2 separate regions of the Homo sapiens genome follow, and region 2 is reported to be linked to region 1. The links are microRNA targets in miRTarBase. Many come from high-throughput screens and were not tested one by one. Region 1 holds a microRNA gene; the other region holds the end of a gene's coding sequence.

Region 1 (5,073 bases):
TCAATGAAGTACCCCTTCCCTTTCCAGTTGCATACTTTAGGGTTTTGCAGCTTAGCTGCCCTTCTGAGGACTCCCCCACATGGTTTCCCTCCTCCTTTTTCATCTCTCTGCTTCTCCACCTCCCTACCCTGTTTGTCCTCAGGGTACAGAGGGGCTGCAGAGTTCAAGCCCTCAGTGTGCCCTCCTGCTGCTGCTGACAACAACCCTGTGGGGCTGGGATCACATTGTACTTCCTTGAAAAACTCACTGCACCCCGCCCTACTTTCTTGCAAGTGCTGATGTAAACATTTCTCTGCCAGAATCTGATAACATTCTAACACTGCCAGTACATAGATTAATGTCAACACTTTTGGTGATGCTCTAAATACAGATAAGCTAAAGTGGTTCAGCTAATGTCAGCATTCAAGGGCCTAAACTTCCCAAACTGACTACAGCTGCTCTAGAGCTTACTTACTACTGCTAGGAAAAAGCGTCATACCTCCCAGCAAACATAGATATTTTTCTTTTTCAGATAGTAAGATACAGGTTGAGTTGAGTATCCCTTATCTGAAATGCTTGAAACCAGAAGTGTTGCAGATTTCAATATTTTTCAGATTTTGGAATATTTGCATTACATTTAGTTGTTCAGCATCCCTAAGTCAAAAAATCTAAAATTGGAAATGCTCCAATGAGCGTCTCTTTTGAGCATCATGTTGGTACTTAAAAAGTTTTGGATTTTAGAGCATTTCAGATTTCAGCTTTCCAGAGTAGGGATACTCAACCTGTAATAATTTTAACCTTGGCTGACAGAATGCTCGGAGCTAAATTGTATGTTCCAACCTAAGAGTTATACTTCACTGATGTTTTCTGATATATCCATCTTTTCCCCTGGATAATTAACTCTTATTTTATTATCCTAATATATAGGTATTTTGTTGTAAGCCATGTGAAATCCTTATAGAAGTAAGCAGTGCGTGAGTAGAAAATGATGCGTGAATTATTAGAGGTGTCATTGCCCCATGAAAATATACAACCTATGTTGGTTATATAGTCGTTCCTGAACACAACATCTTTCAAGGCCAGGATTTCTAAAACTCATTACATGAGTAGTTGGTAGTTTCCATTCTCTTTTGTTTAATATTTCAGAGGATATGTAGTATTTTAGTGAGGAGGTTTTGGGTGCAGGGTACTAAAAACCTAATCCAATGCACAGGTTTGAACATTAGATGGGATTCACTAAGTTTTTGCGACACAAATGCTTGGTGGGCTCCAGGTGTGGTTTGATCAGGGTTCTGGTTCTGTCTTAACTTCTCTTAGTTTCTCTTGCCCTGTGTGGGCTTTGTCTTCAGGCTGGCTTTCCTCGGCAGGGCAGGCCTGCCAGTTGTCTCTGATGAAGACATACTCTCTCTGCAGGAGTTCATCCCTGAACAAAATACCACAGCAAGGGGAGTGGGGGATGCCCTGATTGGGCTAGACTGGTCAGGCCCGGGCTGATGCTGGGATGCACGGGGGAGTCAACCCCACACAAAACCCAGGTGCTTCACAGTGGGGGTGGGGTGGGGTGGCAGACAGGAAGGGAGGTTTATTCTCACTCCATTGACAAGGCTGATGAAAAGAACCACTAGGAGAAGAGCTACTATAAAACTCTGCACATATAATTATTAGGGATGAACAATGCCAGGTTGTGCTTGATGGGCCTTCTAAGTCCTTTTGGAGCCCTCTCACTTTCTGGTAAGCCTTTAGACAAAATCTGCTTTGCGATGCCTCTAGAATGGGGCAGGTGGAAAGCTTCCTGCAATTACATTCCTTTTATATAATGTTTCTCCACCAGAGGTTTGCAGTTTTATAGGATTCACCTGCCAATTGGCAACTGATTTGAGACACGTTAGTGCATCAGCAGAAGTGGGGGACATGCCGAGGGAGCAGCCTGGTGCTTGGCGGAATGTATCCTCTAATCACTTTTCGCCAGAAAGACCCTTAAAGCAATTATACGCTTCTGCAAAGAGAACTGGAAAAGGGTTCTGGATACTTTCTCCTCTTAATTAACCAAAGAATATGCCAATTCTTTTTAGAAAGTAAACTTTTTTCCCTAGTAACTATATTGTCCCATATCTGGTTATAATTTGTGTCTGAAGTAAGTAATTAATAGAGGACTGCCAGAATTTATGAGAATAAGAAACCCCATGAGTTCACGCGTGCACACACACACACTCAGAGGACATTGATATAGTTTGGATACTTGTGCCCTACAAATCTCACGTTGGAATGGCAACCCCAATGTTGGAGGTGGGCCTAGTGGGAGGTGTTTGCATCACAGGGGTGGATCCCTCTTGAGTGGCCTGGTGCCATCCTTGCAGTAATGAGGGAGTTCTTGCTCTACCAATTCGCCCAAGATCTGGTTATTTAAAAGAGCCTGAGACTTCCTTCTCTCTCTTGCTCCCTCTCTCACTACGTGATATACTGGCTCCCCTTCACCTGCTGCCATGATTGGAAGCTTCTGAGGCCCTATGCTTCCTGTATAGGCTGCAGAAGCATGAGCCAAATAAACCCCTGTTCTTTATAAATTACCCAGTTTCAGGTATTCCTTTATTGCAAAGTAAACAGTCTAAGAAAACTGCTGTTTTCTTTACTTGTAATGTGCTTTTCACTGCCTAGCTAAAAGGAGACAATGGCCTCTGTAAAGCACCTTGTCATGGACAAGTGATGCTGGCATATCATTATAATTGTGACCTATGAAATCTTTGCCTATTCTCAGGTTTCAAATATTTTTCTCCTGACAGTTCTATATAGTATACCCTGCTTATCTGCTGGGGACATATTCCAAGACCCCCCAGTGGATACCTGAAACCATGGATACTAAAGAACTGTATATATACTGTGTTGTTTTCCTATATGTATTATTATAAAGTTTAATTTATAAATTATATTATATTATATATAATATTATATTATTATAAAGTTTAATTTATAAATTAGGCACAGGAAGAGATTACAGCAAATTATAATAAAACAGACAATTATAATGATATGCCAGCACCACTATTCTTGCACACTGGGGCCATTACGAACTAAAATAAGGGTTACTTGAACATCAGCACTGTGATGTCACGGCAGTTGATCTGATAACCCAGATGGCTACTAAATGACCCATAGGCAGGTAGCATCTACAGTGTAGATCCACGAGACAAAGGGATGATTCACATCCTAGGAGGGACGGGACAGATGGCCTGAGATTTCATCATGCTACTCAGAACAGCACACAATTTAAAACGTATGAGTTGGCCAGGTGCAGTGGCTCACACCAGTAATCCCAGCACTTTGGGAGGCTGATGTGAGTAGACCACTTGAGCCCGGGAGTTCAAGACCAGCCTGGGCAACATGGCGAACTCCTATCTTTACAAAAAATACAAAAATTAACCAGGCGTGGTGGTGCATGTCTATAGTCCCAGATACTCAGGGGGCTGAGGTTGGAGGATTGCTTGAGCCTGAGAGACCAAGGCTGCAGTGAGCCAAGACTGCGCCATTGCACTCCAGCCTGGGTGACAGAGTGAGATTCTGTCTCAAAAAAATTTTTTTAAAAAGGGATGAATTATTTATTTCTAAAATTTCTCTTTTAGTTTTTTGGATGTGAGTGGATGATGAGCCACATGTCCCTTTGGTTGGCTGAGGGTAACTGAAACCATGGAAAGCAAAACTGTGGTTAAAGGGGGACTACTATAATTTTAGCTGTATTATGTTTAGGTCTATCATCCATATTGAATTAATTTTGTGCATGAGTTGAGATAGGAATTGAGATTCATTTTCTTCCCCATATGGATATCTATTTTTCCAGCATCATTTCTAGAAAAGCGCTTACTTTTCCCATTGGAGCTTCGGTGGCTTTGTCAGTCATTAAGTAACCTTATAGGTGTGAGTCTAGGTCTAGGCTGCCTGTTGTGTTTTATTCATGTATTTGCATAAACTTGCTTTGTGTACATTAGCTTGGCTACTGGAGCCTCAAACTCAGGTTGTGGAAGTCCTCATATTCTGTCTTGTCAGTATTAATTTAGAGATCCTAGGACCTTAGTATTTCCATATAAATGTCAGAATCAATATGTCAGTTTCTCTGAAAACTTGACCTAATTATCAGTCAGATTGCATTGAATCTATAGATCAATCTGAGGAGACTGTATATTATAAAAGCATTGGGTTTTTCAACTTATGAACATGAAATGCCTCTCCATGTATTTAGGTCTTCTAAATTCATAGTTTTCTGCATAGAGTTATTAAATACCTTTTGTTAACCTTATTTCTAAGTATTTAATGTTCTAGATATCATTATAAATAAAATTGGTTTTTAAACTTTTTTTTTGCTGGTAGTAAATCGAAATATAATTGATTTTTTCAGATTGATCTTGTATTCTGTGACCTTGCTATTTTTACATAAATTCCTCAGGATTCTCTTTGCAAACAATGATGTCATTTATACACAAAGGGAGTTTTACTTCTTAATTTTCAATCTTTATGCCTATTATTTCATTTTGTTTTATTTTACTGCCTAGGACCTCCAGTACAATGTTGAACAGAAGTGGTGACAGTAAACATTTTTAGCTTGTTCTTGATAATAAAAGAGGACAATATTTCACCATTATCATAAATGGCAGTTGAACTTAGGGAAATAATGTTTCTGCTTATGAAATGATTACATATTTGTCTTCTCTTTCGTTTTGTTAATATGGTGGATTACATTGACAATTTAATATGTTAAATCAACATTGCACTCTTGTGATACACCTACTTCTTCATGGAATATGAACTTTTGCATGTATTTTTGTATTTGATTTGCTAGTAGTTTGTTTAGGTTCATGAGGGATATTCTGTAGTTTTCTTTTATTGTAATATATTTGCTAGTTTTTTGGTATCAAATTTATATAGGCCTCATAAAAGTGATTCAGACAGTGTTCTCTTCTCTTGTGTTTTAGAAAGAGTTTGTCTATATTTGATGTCATTTCTTTCTCAAATGTTTGACAGAATCAACAAAGAAACTATCTGAGTCTAGAATTTTCTTTGTGTGAAGATTTTTGATAATACGTTCAATTTCTTTACTAAGTATAA
Region 2 (5,073 bases), not on the chromosome of region 1:
TCCCCTGAGAAAGAAATTCTTTGCTATGTAAAGTTAATGCTGGTGTTTTATGTGTTTTGACATTTTATTGAGTTAACTGTTTTTATATTTAAGCCCTTCATGTACTTACTCATTTTTTCTTCTGTGTAATAATCTATAGGGAAGGGAGCAAAACAAACCTGATTCTTCTCCTCTGTACATTCAGAATCCATTTGAAACTTCTCTCAACATAAGCAAAAATGTAAGTCAAAGCCAGCTGCAAAAATTTGTAGATTTGGCCCGAGAAAGTGCCTGGATTTTACAACAGGAAGATACAGATCGACCTTCCATATCAAGTAATCGGCCCTGGGGGCTGGTATCCCTATTGCTACCATCTGCTCCAAACAGAAAGTCCTTTACCAAGAAGAAAAGCAATAAGTTTGCAATTGAAACAGTCAAAAACTTGCTAGAATCTTTAAAAGGTAACAGAACAGAAAATTTCACAAAAACCAGTGGGAAGAGAACAATTAGTACTCAGACATGATGGCTGCTACATTGTGTAAAGAACTGGGCTTAGCCTATCAAATGGTCTGTGGACTTACTTGGAAAAACTGATTTGAAACTTTCACAGATCTCAGCTTTCATCTGATGTCACTTTTCATGATCTTCTCATTGGCCCCCTTAACCTGGTCTGAAGTTCTGGGATGTTTTCAGTTTGATCAGTCTGATACTCAGTGGCACTTTATTAAAACATCAGCTGTGGAGTGTGGCGGTGCACACCTGTAGTCCCAGCTGCTCAGGAGGCTGAGGCAGGAGGATCTCTTGAGCCCAGGATTTTGAATCCATCGTGGACAACATAGCAAGATTCCATCTCTAAAAAAAATGAAAATAAACATAAGCCACAAGGAATGGGTGAAAGATTATTGTAATGTGCTTTAACTAAATAGGTAAATATACTAAACAAATGCTAAAACTCAGTTTTAGGATGAAACCATTGTTGATATCCACATCAGTCCCTGTTTAGAAAACATTTAAAATGACTTTTAGTTATGTACAGTACGTTGGCAATGAATACATTAAGCTTCAAAATTTGGTAGTGCTCTCGAATATGTATATTTGTATTTTTCAAGCGAAGTTCTCTTATTCACATATAAATTAAAGTGGGTTGGTACTGATATCAAAAAATGTTTATGTTTTTAGAACAGACATTTCAGTCACTGCATTCTTAGGTATTCCAAACCAAATATGATGACATCAATAGATTGCATTTTAAAAATATTGTTTGATTTTTCTATTTTCAAAAATAAAATTCTGTTTCTAACTAAAATGTGATATTCCCAGTATTCCTTCACATCTCTTTTGAGAACTCCCCTCTTCCTGCAGGAAAGAGACATATTTGTCTCTCAGTATATGCAGAAAATTGGTTCCAGGACCATCCACGTACACCCAGATCTGCACACACTGAACTCCTTCAGTCCTGTGGAGCCCGTGCATGGGAGAATTCCACCTTGCACATAAGCAGATTTTGCATCCTGTGAAAGTACTGTATTTTCTTTCTTTCTTTTTTTTTTTTTTTTTTTTTTGAGACAGAGTCTCGCTCTGTCGCCCAGGCTAGAGTGCAGTGGCGCAATCTCGGCTCACTGCAAGCTCTGCCTCCCAGGTTCACGCCATTCTCCTGCCTCAGCCTCTCTGAGTAGCTGGGACTATAGGTGCCCGCCACCACGCCCGGACAATTTTTTTGTATTTTTAGTAGAGACAGGGTTTCACCATGGTCTCGATCTCCCGACCTCGTGATCAGCCCACCTCAACCTCCCAAAGTGCTGGGATTACAAGCGTGAGCCACCATGCCTGGCCGAGAATACTGTATTTTCAATCCAAGTTTGGTTGGAAAAAATCTGTGTGTAAATGGACTTCGCAGTTGAAACCCATGTTGTTCAATGGGCAACTGTATATTGAAATTTAATTTCCATTACATTCTCTGTGGAGCAACTTTTTTGCTTTGTTTCGTTTTGTTTCTGAGACGGAGTTTTGCTCTTGTTGCCCAGGCTGGGGTGCAATGGCACAATCTCAGCTCACTGCAACCTCCGCCTCCCGGATTCAAGTGATTCTCCTGCCTCAGCTGGGATTACAGGCGCCCACCACCAAGCCCAGCTAATTTTTGTAGTTTTAGTAGGGACAGGGTTTCACCATGTTGGCCAGGCTGATCTCGAACTCCTGACCTCAGGTGATCGCCCACCTTGGCCTTCCAAAGTGTTGGAATTACAGGCGTGAGCCACTGCACCTGGCTTCTGTGGAGTAACTTTCTATTTAAGAAGCAAGTAAGGCCTGGGCATAGCGGCACATGCCTGTAGTCCCAGGTACTTGGGAGGCCGAGGCACAAGGACTGCTTGAACCTGGGAGGCAGAGGCTGCAGTGAGCTGAGATCACAGCACTGTACTCCATCCTGGGCGACAGTGAGACTCTCTCAAAGGAAAAGAAGCAAGTAGTATAGTGTTTAAAAACAGACTTGAGCGAGACTGGCTCAATGACAAGTTACTCAGTCTCTTGGGGCCCCTGTTTGATCTGTAAAATGGGGATCATGATCAGATCAATGTGAGGATTAAGCGAGGGATGTAGGAAAATGCTAGGTCAGTGCATTTTCCTGGCGCGAAGTAAATGTTACTTCTCTTTAACTGTTGCCTTTCGGTGTTTGTGGTATGTAATTACCTTTTTTGCTACTCAAAATTCAGATTTAGAGTTTGTAGTACTTTAAAAATTTTTCCCATTTAAATTTTATGTCAGAAATTATAATGGGTTCTGCATGGGATATTTTAAGAAACTCAGCATTGTTATGAAGCAAATGAATTCTGTGTCCTTGTGTCTGTGCTATTGGATTGCACATTTGACACCAACAAATATCAGTGTTCTGTACAGGCGATGTCTTTAAAAGCCATTTTTCATTTGTTCTTTATTTTGTTGGGCTAGAAATCCATATTGATTTAAAAAGCTTAAAAAGCATAAACCACTTAAGGGTTTCTAAATGAAATTTTTTTTTCTGTTCACAGATATTTAGTCAGATATTTTCTTTTTTAGGTTGGTGCTAGGTGTAATATGGTTATTTAAGCACATAAAGTATGTGTATGGGTTAGCATTTTCTTTTCTTTTTGGTAATTTGTAGGACAGCCTTGACACTAGGCTGTTTTACTTTTCAGAATCAGATTTAATTATGTGATTAATTTTAAATCTACAAAGACTTGTTTTTTGTTTTTTTTTTTGAGAGCAAATCTTGCTCTGTCACCCAGGCTAGACTGCAGTGGTGCGATCTCGGCTCACTGCAACCTCTGCCTCCTGGGTTCAAGCGATACTCCTGCCCCAGCCTCCCAAGTAACTGGGATTACAGGCGCCTGCCACCATGCCTAGCTAATTTTTGTATGTTAGTAGAGACGGGGTTTCACCATGTTGGCCAGGCTGGTCTTGAATTCCTGACCTCAAGTGATCTACCTGTCTCAGCCTCTCAAAGTGCTGGGATTACAGGTTACAGGTGTGAGCCACCGCACCTGGCCTACAAAGACCCTTTTTTTTTTTTTTTTTTGAGATGGGTCTCCCTCTGTCACCCAGGCTGGAGAGTGCAGTGATCTTGGCTCACTGAAACCTCCACTTCCCGGGTTCAGGTGATTCTTCTGCCTCAGCCTCCTGAGTAGCTGGGATTACAGGTGCATGCCACCACACCTGGCTAAGTTTTCTATTTTTAGTAGAGATGGGGTTTTACTCTGTTGGCCAGGCTGGTCTCGAACTCCTGACCTCAGGTGACCTGCCCACCTCGCCCTCCCAAAATGCTGGGATTACAGGCATGAGCCACCACGCCTGGCTGCAAAGACCTTTTAATACACAGTTTTAAAGTCTGTTCAACTGAATATAGACTACAGACAAATATATTTTCTCATAACTTTAGTGTATCACAACCCAGATTTTTAAAATATTTTTATTACGTGATAGTGATAACTAGCAATTATTTGTCATTGCTGTTTCTTAATTAAAAATAATTGCAATGTTAAGTAAAACTTTTTTCAAGTTTTTTTCTTCTATAACTATTACTAGGCTTTCATTCAGTAGCTTTCACCTGTAATGAGTTTTACTAAGTATGTGAAAGTAATTTTGATAGGAGACTACCCAGATCAAAACGATTTCAGCTATAGCCCACTAGTATAATTCCTGGAGCTATTATCCATCTTTAGAAAATTTGAGAATTAGCCAGAGACTTTCTAGGAAATAACGATTAGCCTGAAACGTTATAGGAAAACTGTGTGTAATTATCTCATTCACCTTCAGTTACCATAAAGGAGAAGGGAAAATAAAGTTGAGTTGAAATAAGACTTTTTTCTGCTGTCATTTCCTATTGGCGTCTTTCTTTTGCTGTAGTCAGGTGTAGAGCTCTACTCAGGTGGCTTACGCTGTAGTCAGGTGAGAGCAGAATTAGATTGTTCCACCTCATTCCATGCTCCTAGGATTTCCTTGGCCTTCCAAGTACAGCCATATTCATCCCTTTAGAGCCTCCTGGTGCCGTGGTAGGGAAATGCTACATTTGCCTGTGTAAATAAGCAAACACTGAATATGTGCAGCAAAGCCAGAAGGAGCTTCCAAGCAGATGCATCTTGTTGAAGTAGCAACTCCACTTTGCAGAGTTTGACATTCAGTTGGTGAGTAGCTGTCATATGTTTGGAGAACTAGGGGTCCAGATTGGCTAGGATGTAGTTTTTAATGTGATACGCAGAAGTTAAGGTTGAGCAAGATGGGGAAGAACTGCCAATTTCAAGTTAAGGAGGTTGAGTATATCTTCATTGGTAAATCATTGATGATTTGTTGTTGTTGTTTTTGAGGCAGAGTCTAGCTCTGTTGCCCAGGCTGGAGTGCAGTGGTGCGATCTCAGCTCACTGCAACCTCTACCTCCTGGGTTCAAGCAATTCTCAGGCCTCAGCCTCCTGAATAGCTGGGATTACAGGCACACACCACCTCACCCAGCTAATTTTTGTATTTTTAGTGGAGATGGGGTTTTGCCATGCAGGCCAGGCTGGTCTCAAACTCCTGACCTCAGGTGATCTGCCTGCCTCAGCCCCTCAAAATGCTGGGATTACAGGC

The links. Region 1 holds the annotated microRNA hsa-miR-3929 (GAGGCUGAUGUGAGUAGACCACU, at 3,302-3,324, shown strand). A microRNA usually pairs through its seed, bases 2 to 8, with sites in the 3' UTR of a target mRNA and lowers its output. Matches are read on the target gene's strand: a 7mer-m8 pairs with bases 2 to 8, a 7mer-A1 pairs with bases 2 to 7 and ends in A, and an 8mer does both.
Region 2: the mRNA of MTPAP is a reported target of hsa-miR-3929. Seed matches in the 3' UTR shown: 7mer-m8 at 1,639-1,645, 7mer-m8 at 3,444-3,450 and 7mer-m8 at 3,623-3,629.

The regions. Positions count from the first base shown.
Region 1 is chr18:35,932,339-35,937,411 of GRCh38, reverse strand. MIR3929 (microRNA 3929) reads left to right here and starts at 3,270; the gene lies at 3,270-3,324.
Region 2 is chr10:30,309,038-30,314,110 of GRCh38, reverse strand. It overlaps MTPAP (mitochondrial poly(A) polymerase), which reads left to right. Exons shown (of 9, transcript NM_018109.4): 9 at 140-4,310. The coding sequence ends at 502. Among named protein-coding and RNA genes, the nearest start is that of MTPAP, 38 kb to the left of the region's middle.